2 separate regions of the Homo sapiens genome follow, and region 2 is linked to region 1. The links come from fine-mapping of genetic effects on gene expression. Tissue or cell type: monocytes after LPS. Region 1 holds a variant in brackets; the other region holds the start of a gene. All regions are shown on one strand. Distances are from middle to middle.

The links. PIP is the estimated chance that this variant, and not a neighbour inherited with it, causes the effect.
Region 2: it holds the start of RASGRF1, and the variant in region 1 is fine-mapped to the expression of RASGRF1 in monocytes after LPS (Quach 2016, PIP 0.95).

Annotation. Positions count from the first base shown.
Region 1 is chr15:79,015,258-79,021,173 of GRCh38, forward strand. It overlaps RASGRF1 (Ras protein specific guanine nucleotide releasing factor 1), which reads right to left. Exons shown (of 27, transcript NM_001145648.3): 11 at 4,784-4,847; 12 at 2,513-2,649; 13 at 70-152. Among named protein-coding and RNA genes, the nearest start is that of RASGRF1, 73 kb to the right of the region's middle. The variant G/A (reference allele first, on the strand shown) is at 2,689.
Region 2 is chr15:79,087,975-79,093,204 of GRCh38, forward strand. RASGRF1 (Ras protein specific guanine nucleotide releasing factor 1) reads right to left here and starts at 2,806. Exons shown (of 27, transcript NM_001145648.3): 1 at 2,249-2,806. The coding sequence starts at 2,524.

The DNA of each region.
Region 1 (5,916 bases):
CTGGCTGTCACCTTGTGGTACTCAGTCTCTGGAATGCTGCCTGGTCAAGATGGGGTTAAGGGCACTTACTTGATCATCTGCGGCACAGTGACCTTGGAATTTTCTTCAAATGCGTTCATCATGAGCCCATTGCATCGGATGTTATCCACACACTGGAATCAGAGAGAGGACCCCAGGGTCAGAGCTCTCCATTCCTGGACCCAGGCCCACCAGGAGCTCTGCCAACTGTAAAGTTCACATGCCTCAGTCTGATACAGGGTCCTCAAGCTTCAAGGGCATTGTCCTGGCAAAGGCAGGGTCAGCGTGGCGCATCCTTTAGACTTTGGCCGGAAGTCAAGTCTCAGTTGAATGACCTTGGGGAACTTACTTGACCTCAAGTCTTAGTTTCATTATATGCAAAGTGGGGATAATGACTTCTACCTCACTGGGTTGATTACAAACAACCACTGGGATGCAAAATGAATGCATCTGACACTGACCATTCTGTTGCTGACCTCTGGGGTCCAGTGTCAAGGACAAGATCAGATCCATGGTGATGTGGGATCTCTCTCCTGGGAGGCCAGCCCAGCAGGGCCTCTGCGCCACTGCACGAGGGTGCTGAACTGTTCTCTCTGTCCTCTGACCACCACAGTGCCAACACTTGGATGCTGTGGATGGTTTTCCATATGAAGAGTCCATGGGTGTGGGGCCCTGGAGAAGGCAAGGCTGCTGGCGGGAGGGGCACAGATGATTGTACATTTCACTCGGCCTCCAAAAATATTCAAAATCCAAATTTTGCTTTGAATAGGAAGTACCCGCCCAAACAAAAATAAAAACTGCATCTCTTGGGGGAGCTGCCTCTTTTCCCCTGCACTGTCCCCTGCCCTGGGTCTTCACATTTCTGCCATGAGAGGGTTTCTTCTTGGCATAGCGATAGGGAAGGCTTGGTGGCACATCACAGAATCTTCTGGTTTTGAGAATGTGTGTGTTGCAGGGAGGAGGGTGTCAAAGTCATTGGGAAGTGGCAGCTGAGAGCTGGCACAGTGGGTGGTGGAGCTCCCAGGCCCAGACTTCTGGGCAAGGCCACGACCCCAAAGAGGGAGGCTTCTGTCATTTGCATTTCTCAGCCCCACTTCTCCCACCCATCTGACAATCTCTCTAGCTTTGGTTCTACCAGCAACTCCAAAACAAAGAAGACTTGGCCATGGGCTCAGAGTGTTATGGAGGCAGGAGGGCTTGGGGAAGGGGCCAGAGGACTCCCACCTTGACCCCTTCACTGGCATCCACAACGGCTGCCAGGAGGGCAGAGGCCTGGTGGGCACCCTCTGGGCAAGCAGCCCCAGGCCTTTGACGGCTGCGGCTCACTGGGGATGTGAAAGGGCAAAGCTCAGGGTCTGCAGTTTTCTCTAGGGCTTTCTGGGTGTTTTGAAGACATGTGGGAAGACTCAGAACAGGCACGTGCCATGCATCATCCCACCCGCCTTACTCCTCTGGGACTGCGAGATGGGCAGGTGGGCCAGAAGGAAGGCTGGGAGCGGCAGTCAGGGGAGCCTGGAAGGGGCACAAAACCAAGAAGGTGGGGAGCAAGCAAGGGAAGCCGTCCTAGGTCCCACGAAGATGCTGCCCTGCCCTTTCAGTTTCTACAGGCACAGGCCTCCTGCAACCCTCTAGACCATGGGGGGCCACCAACCTCCCTCCCCTTCTGCTGTTGGCTGCTCTCCTACCACCCCACCCCGCAGAGAGGATGGCCAAGGCTCCCAGCTGCTGGGATGGCACATCCCTGACCCATCACAGGCCCTTGCTGGGCTCAGGGAGGGGCCTGTCCTGGGGCCTAAACCCCGGTGCTGCTGACAGCCTCTTTATAGACTCAAGTCTCACCCCTTGTACTTTAGGCACCCATGGGCATTCTGGGTCTGCTCACTGGTGCCTGGAAAAGTCTGTGCTTCCTGCTTAATGCTCCAAATAGGGTGAATGACCCTAATGCTTACAGCAGGCCAAAGCAAAACTAAATCTTCCGTGTGCATAATTGAGGCTGGGTTTGATCTTAGGTAGCTGCCCCGACTCACTGAAGAAGCTACCCTTGGCTTTCAGGGACACCGTTCTCTCGCTGTGAACATTATTACATCTAATATGTTCAGACTTTTCTGTGCGTATCAATGACCTGGGGCATGTACTAAAATGCGGATTTACAGGTCACATGCCAACAATTTAGATCTGTAGGTCTGCAGGATAGTGGGGAAAGGGGAGAAGGGTCCAGGAAACTGAAGTTTTTAAAATCACCTTGCTAGGTGATACAGATGCAAGAGGGGTTTCCAGACCACACTTTCAAGGTGACCCAGGGGACTACAAACGGGATGGACTAGCTGAGCTCAGCTTTGGGTAGGGCTGTGGACTTGGAAGATTCTTGCATCTTTCTCTGTAGAACAGTGCAGCTACTCCACCACCCCCACCCCCTACCTGCCACCAGCCAAATCCCTGACCTGGTTAGGCATGAAGGGACCACTCGCTTTCAGGAACAGGTGACGCTACTCACCTGGCTGATGTCACTGGTCCACGCTGCCTTCTCCTGTCTGGACGAGGCCACTAGGATGACTGTAAAGGGCGGGGAATCCTTTGGCTCCACCCCGATTTTAAAATCCAAGTGATCTATGTCTTGGCCGGATCCTTTGGCTTCCAGTTGTAAAACATAAAGTTAGCAGCATGAATGTG[G/A]ACGCCTTTTCAGGTGGAAAATGTTTTAGTGGTCCCTGTCGTACGTACCAGTGGAGGCTCTGCGTTGGTAAGGCACCAGGCCAATTGCTGCTACTTTCAGAATATTATTTTCCTAAGTGGGAAATCCCCATTTCAAAGATGGAAGAACTAAGACGTAGCTTACAACCACTCAGGGGCAGTTCCGGATTCAGAGCAGGAGAGCCTTTAGGAATCACAGTCTGCCCTCTGCCCTCATTACACCAATGGAGGTGAGGTCACGGGCGAGGACTTGCCCAAGGCTCCCAGCAGGGTGGTGGCCAAGCCAGGGCAGGGCTAGAATGGGCCTCTCAGCCAGGCCCTCCTGCTACCCCAAGGTGGTTCTGGGGCCAAATGAGGAACTTCAAGGTCTTAAACTTTTATGGATTGGGCTGGACATTTAGTTCAGTTTAGAGCTCCCCAAAGCAAAAGTGAATTCTAGGTATTTTTGTTACTGCTCTTAACCTGAAAGTCCCTTGAAGTCTTGAAAGCTGTTTATTTGGAAAAACTAAAACCACAGCTTCAAGATTCTTTTCAATGCACTCACATTAATTAGGGGTGCACTGAATGGGTTCATGGTGTAAAGGGCCTGCTTTGGTTCTGCTTTGCTCCAAAGCTCTATGGCTGTGTGATGTTGAGGTGGTTTCCTTCCCCCTCTGGGCTTCAGATGTCCTCCTGTGCAACAGGAGTGGGACTTGATTTCTCTGAGGTTCCTGTCCCTTCCAGTTCTGACACCTGAGAATTTTAGGAGTCCTTGCTGGGCACGAGGGAGCCCATTCTCCTGGGACTGTGCTGGAGTCTCTGAGAAGTGGGTGCCTGTGTGTGGGTGTGTTTCAGGTGGGGAACGCTTGTGGCCAGGATCCCACCTCCCTGGGCCTAGGAGGGTAAAGAGTTTTGGGGCCTGACAGTGCCACTTGAGCCTGGGTTTTCCTGTGGACCTGCTGTGGCCAAGATGAAAGAAGGCTGCACTGGTAGGAAGGCTCCAGGTAAGCTGCCTCCTCGTTTATTCTTCCCTTGGGGAACCACTTGATTTGGCCCTTATTGGAAGGGCATGAGGGGAGCAGAACCCAGTGGTAACAGGGGCTGAACAGGGTGTGTGCATGAGGGCGTGTGTGTGTGTGTGTTTGCCAAGCGTGTGTGTGGCAACCCCCAGGCCCATGCCCATCCCCATGCCATGCTGGGCCTGTGATGCTGAGGTGCTTCAGACACAGCCCACCCCAGGAGGCCCAGTCTGAGGAGGGAAAAGAGCACGGGTCCTGCTGGTGTCCCCACAGGGCAGGGCATCCAGAGACATCTCTGAGGGTCTTGGCTTGGGGTCAGTGAAGAAGGGAAATGAGTGCCAACTTTGGCCCAATCAAGAGAGAGTAGTGATCCCACCCCCTAATCTGAATAATGACCCCACCTCCAATTCTGATGCCTTGGGAGATAAATCCCATCAAACATCACAGCACCAAGGACTCTGCCCTCCGCACACTTCCCCATTCAGCCCCATTTGAGTTGTTCAGCCCCTTCTCACCGAGGTCTTGCCTCCCCTCCTGGCCCCTGCAAGGGCATGGTTCTCTCTCTCAGGACCCTCAGCCCTGCAATCCCTCTGTCAGTGGCCCCTGCACATTCTTTCCTTTTCCACTGCAGGACAGAGATAGGGCTGGGTGTGTCCCTGGCTTCCAGCACATGGCCCCAAGAGCCCTTGTGCATGTCACACACAGGTGTGTGAATGAGGGGTGCTCACTGAGATGCTGTGACCCCAAAACCTAACAGTGCCAACTGGTCCAGCAGCCCAGGGAGCTTGGAACGAACCAGGAAGGTGGATCAGGGTCATCACCTGCCGGGCTGGGAGCTCTTTCTTTAAAGCCTCAGGCTCTGGCCTCTCCACACCTTATTGGAAGTACAAGGGGAGCAAAGCCCAGCTGTAGCAGGGACTGAACAGGGTGTGTGCATGAGGGCATGTGTGGACCTCCCCTCCGCACTTCAGCATCCTCCATTCCTCCCAAAGAAACTAATGCCTGGCCCAACCTTTAGGAGTGAGCGTGTGTGTATCTGTGCAAGCACACACATGCGCACATGCAGCTTTCACACTCACCTTCCTCCTCCGTGCTTTCTGGCTCCTCCAATAAAGTGCAGTCAATGAGGGATATGACTCCATTCTGAAAAAGAGCAGCAGGGGCTGCTTTGGATTGAGGGGTAGATATGCTGGTTTAGGAGTCCCTGGATGATAGGGTTGGAGGGGACTTTAACAAGGAGCATCCATGTATACACACAGATGTATGGATGGATATATTATATGCCAAGTGGGTATTTTGCTTTTTCAGTGGAAGGACTTTATCTTCATATAAGAAGCTCAATGAAGTGGGTCAAAGGAGATTGTCTCAGAGAGGCCTTCCCCAAACCAAGGTTGAGTTCTGGCCATGGGTGGAGCGGACAGAACCTGGCCTGCTTGGCCCCTTCTTGCTTCCACAGCAGCTCCAGGGCATCGCTTCATAGCCCTAAATCTGCAGAGGTTTGAAATCCCCCGTTTTAGGCCAAAGCTATCAGGTTACCCACAGGAAGACAGAGGCTGGTCTTATGGGTATTGTAATTCTCATTTTACAGGTGAAGAAATGAAGACAGAGAAGTTGCATGTCTTGTTCAAGGTCCGCTGGCAAGTTAGCAGTGAGTCTGGAGAGAGCCTCAAGGGCCCGATCCCAGTCCTGGTCAGTTACTTATTTTAATTATTAGGAATACCTGGAAAAATGCCTCCCATCCATGAGTGTGGGAGCATCTCTTGGGTAGGAGGTCCCTTAACATTGTAGTGAGAAATAAGAGTGGCCACAGCTGTGGTGGTTGTAAGACATGTTCACAAATTCTTTCACATTTTTCTTTTCAAAAGGCAAAGCCTAATTCCCTTCCTCTTGAGTGTGAGCTGGACTTAGTGGCTTACATCTAATTAAAAGAATAAATCAGAAGTGATGGTGTGCCACTTTGGAGACCACATTCTCCTGCTTGCTCTCTTGCTGTCTCTTGCATCACCTGTTGTGGGGGACACCAACTGGCATGTTGTGGGGAGAGGTCTATGAATGAGGAACTGAGGCCTCCAGCCAACAGCCATGGAGGCATATCATCTTGGAAAAGGATACCCCGGCCCCAGTTGAACCTTCGGAACACTGCAGCCCCAGCTGACATCTTGACTGCAAACCCCTGAAATGCCCTGAGCCAAGACCACCCAGGTAAGTAGCT
Region 2 (5,230 bases), 72 kb after region 1:
TGTTCTGGGGAAACAGCTCTGAACATGAGTGCATCTCATCAATTAGTTTTGCACTGATGTTCCTCCCATGATCTACTGCTAGGATGATTCAATACCTGGGCCAAGAGTTGGATGATTTGAAATCAATGTAGGGTCTCATTTTCAGGAATTCTTAGGCATTGGATGAATTCTAGGTCTGATTCTGCCACTGATTTACCCCGTTGTTGGGTAACTCCCTTTCTTTGCCTCTCAGTTTCTTGGTCTGTAAAATGGGAAGGCTGTATCTCTGAGGTTCTGTTCGACTTTAACATCTGGTGACCTAAATAGCTCTGTCCAGGTGGGTATAATTCAGATTCAACTGTGATTCGTCTAGATCTAACTAAAATGTATTGGGCGCTTACTTTCATATACATTATTTAATGTAGGGCTCTCAAAACCCCAGAAAGGTAGGTGTTATTATCTTCATTTTGTAGATTACAAAATGGAAACTCAGAGAAGTTCAGCAAGTTAACTGAAGTCACACAGCCAGGAAGTCATACAGCTGAGATTCAGTCTCAGGCCTGTCTGCCTTCACGTCCAGGGGGCTGAGAACAGATAATATGAGCCCATGCCAACTTGGCTTCCCCCACCCCTCACTTCCTGCCTACCCAGGAGCTCAGCTCTGTGATCTAGTGTAGTGGGTTGAGGGATGGAGGGGGGATCTGGCTGGGGCTGGGGCTTGGGCTGCAGGCCCCGGGTAGGTATGGGTATATGGGTAGACACTGGCTGGAGAGGGGCAAGTTCTGAAGGGCTGAGAGCAAATTCTCTAGTCTGGCCTGGGACTGGCTCTTCCACATGAGTTCCCCAGGCTCCATTTGAGCTGAAGCTTAAGGAGCTGCCTGCTCTTTGCTCTTCTTTCCATCTGGGAGCCCCTGCTCACCACATGGCTTGTCATCCCCAGGGACCCACCCTCAAAAATTCCTGTCCACACTTCCCAGTCCTCAGAAACTATCTCCTAACACCCATTGGCTGAAGGTAGGGAAGGAAGAGATGTGCTAGAGAGACTGAGCTCGGATCTCTGTCCTGACAATTGGGAGGAAGACTTCAAGCGATGCTTTTATTTCAACCAATTCAATCACCACCAGTCTGTGTCTTCATGCAGCAGTGGCTTTTGAGATCTCGGTTGTCTTTTCAGAACATTGGGACGGCCTCAACAACTTGCATGACGCTGGGCAAGTGAATTTCTCTCTCTGGGCCTCAGTGTCCCCATCTAGGCAATCACCAGCCGTTAGGCCCTATGGATGGAAGGTTCCTGCCTGCAGTGGCATTTTAGGATCCACTATCATCTGCTTTATCTTCCTAGTGGCAAGGGACTGGACCAGATGCTTTTGGAAAGCGCACCAAGCTTAAAGGTGGCTCTCTCTGCAGGTGCCCCTCCTCCCTTCACGCCAGAGGCTCACCCCCACCCCGCCCGGGCTCCCTGTTAGAGCCAGGCCTGGCTCTTCAGCCTTGCAGCTCAGGAAACCAGAGCGCAGCGCTATAGCCGCGACTGCGGCGGCGGCGGCGGCGCAGGGGGCGGGGGAGGAGAGAAGCGCCCACTTCGTCCCGCTGCCTCCGCAGCAGCCCTGGCCCTAGCCCCGGCGCATCAGAGCGGTCCTTGGGAATCTTTGGGCTTGTTGCTCCGGCGGCCGCCAGCTGGGAGCCCACCACCGCTCGATGGTACCGAACCGACCCGTGTAGCCCCATAACCCCAGCCCAACTCCGAGGAGCTAGCGCAGACCGCTCTCCGCCCTCAGCTGCGGCGAGGCAAGGGCTGGCAGCGCTCGGACGCCTCCGTCTTGCCCTTCCCATGCCTAAGCGCGGGGAATTACACGTTCCCGGTGTAGAACAGACGATCGGGGCTATTAGGGCTGGGCGGTGGGAGTGGGGGTTGGGAGCACCATTTTTGGCTGGACGTGTGTCCAGACTCATCGTCTCTGGTCCTTAGGACCCCATCTTCCTCTGCATCTCCAGGTGTCGGCCCCTCTGTACCCGCCTCCCACGGGGCTCGTCCGGCGAAGGGCAGCCGCAGCCCACATCTACTCCCCGCCCTCAATCCCTGCCCCCTCTGCCCGCCGCAGTCACTCGCCTGGCTGGGAGCAAGCCTCCCCTCTCGCTGAGGGTGCAGAGAGCGCCTAGGGCGCCAAGAGTAGAGGGGCCAAAGTTCAAGCGCCATCAGCCAGCCGAAGGCCCTGAGCCCCCAGGGCCGCGGCCGGGACGCAGGGAGGTCAGGACGCGACGCTCGCCTCACCTGTTTCTCCAGCGGCTCCTTGGCCGACAGCGCCGGCTTGGGGGAGGGCGCGCGGTCGCAGACGCAGCCCTCCAGCAGGTAAAGCCCCGAGGGCCGCGAGCTCGAGTCGCTCTCGAAGTAGAAGAGCAGGTTCTGCAGCAGCGCGAACCACTTGGTTTGCCATTTTGTGTTGTCCGAACTCCGCTTGCTCAGGTAGCCTTTGCGCGTGCCGTCCTTGCGCGCCAGCAGTCCCAGGGACGCGACGTGGCCATCATTCAGCCGGATCCCCTTCTGCATGGTGCTCAGAGGCCAGCGAGACCCCACGCGCTTACATCTTCTCCGCGCAGCAGCCCCCCGTCCGTGCGCGCTGCGCGCTGCCTCTCTCTGGCGCTCGCTCGCTCGCTCCCTCTAGCTCTCCCCTCCCCCCAAATATCTACACTCCAGGATCTGGCGCCGAGCCGCGGCTTCTTGAATCCAGATATACCATTCCCCGCTGGAACCTCTTCTCCGCTCCGCAGAGCCCCAGTACCCGGAAGATGCCGCCCGACCCTCCTCCGGTGCCGGGCAAACTGAGGGACTGGCGATCTGCGCGCTGGCGAGGGGCAGGCGGAGTCATGTGACGCCGATCCCTCGAAGAGCCCGTTTCAGCAGCGCGGACAGGGACACACGCACGCAGCCCCGCCGAGGCGCAGAGCCGCGCGCAGGCTGCAACTTGGTGCCTCCTCCCCCTCCCCAGACACACACACACGCACACGCACACGCACACACTCAAACCCTGCCCTCCCTCCCCTCATCTCCCCTTCTCTCCCTCGGATGTTAAAAAGCAAATCAGATCAATTTTCGTTTAACCCAATGAAACCCCGAAGGCTCGCCATCCCGGGAGTTTGCGTCTTTGCGCCCCACCGCGGCGCACTGTAGACCTGGGGTTAAGTGCCAGTTGTCATTTTCTCCTCCAAAGGCTCGCCCCCCCCCCCCACTTTATTTCTAATACGAGGTGGAAGGAGGAAGGTGGGTGGCGAAATAGAGCTGCAAAAGCGTCCAGTCCTAGTCTTTGCATAGTCAGCCGGGTCACATTGAATTCCAGCATCCGGCTGCACTCCCGGCGGCTTCCCCAGCTACCTGAGGACAGTACAGGGGGTGAGATGGGGTGGTGGTTGGTGAACGTTGGTTACTTTATTTTATATTATTTTATTTTGAGAGTTGCCATAATTACCGGCGCCACCCCCCGTGCACCCTGAGGTCTGGTTGGCGAGCCGCTGCTGGGAGTTTTCTGCAAATACCCCCCAAAGCCTGAAGGCGGGCTTCAAACGCAGGCGCCGGGGACCATGGGAGCCTTCAAATAGCTGCGCTGGCGCAATGATACCTTAATGATAGATTTTCCGTTCTTATTTTTAGCTCTCATTCGCCTACACAGTTACACGGCATTTATCCGAGAACGTCACAGCGCCCGCATGCTGCACCGGGAGGGCGCGCGGGCCGCCGGGCGAGCCGGGAGCTGGGGCGGGGAGCGCGCATCGCTGTCTGCCGCAGAGGGCAGCGAGCTCGCCCCGACCCGGAGCAAGCCGCGCCTGGCCCGGGCGCTTTGCAGCGGGGATGGGTGCCCGCGCAGCCCTGTGAAGGAAAGACACCATCTTTCCGCACGGAAACTGCGTATACCCCTCCCCCGACACACACACACACACACACACACACACACACACACACACACACCCCACACTCACACACAGCACACACCACACACGCACAGATACACACCACACACCACACACCCACACACCACACACACCACACACACACACCACACACACCACACACACACACCGCACACACCACACACAAACCATACACCACACACACCACACACGCACACACACACGCCACACACACCGCATACACAAACACCACACACCACACACACACACCATACACCACACACCAACACACCACACACACACCACACACCCAAACACCACACACACCAAACACACACCACACACCCTACACACACACCACTCCCCACACCCCCCCACACCCCACCACACACACGCCACACACACCACACACAGACACCACACACATGCCACACACCACACACACACCACACACACACCACACACCACACACACACCACACACATGCCACACACCACACACATACCACATGCCACATACACACCCCCCACACTCCCCCACACCCCCCGCCACACACACACACAACCCACACCATACAAACACCACACACTACACACAACACCCCCACACTCCCCACACCACACACCACACACCACACACACTACACACACCACACCCACATACCACACACACCCCTACACACCCCTACACACCACACACACCCACACCCACACATACACCACACACCAGACCACACACCACACATACCACACACACCATGCACACCACACCACACACACCACACCACACACACACCACATAACACACCCCTCCCACAGACCAAACCTGGGCTGCACACACACACGCATCACACCTCACACAACACATGCAGCACACCACACACACATACACACACACATACACACACACACCCTAGTTTGGAGCCCTAGGGAAGGGCTTGGAAACCAGGCAGCCCTGTGTAGGTCACGGAAGAATCCACAGAGAAGCTCTGCTGTGGAGGAATGGAGCTGCCCCTGTCCTGAGCACAGTGAGGCAGGCCTGTGTTCCTGGAGTGGGAGCATTTTGGGGGAGGAACTGGCCTTGTTAACCTTAGTCCTCCCTCTAGTGCCATCGTTCCAGTCCTAGGGACCCCAAGGACTCAGTGGTGCTGATTTTTCTTCACAAATAATGAAAATAGGCTAGATGGCTAAGCCTTTTCATTCAGTCTTAATTTTCCCTACACTATCACCATCTTTTCTTCTCATTTGCTCTCTTCATGGAAGCAGAGTTTGCAGGATTGAGGTTCTTAATCTGGCCTTTCTTTATCTAAACTCTTTTATTCGGAAGTCTGTTACAGAAGCCAAGAAAACTT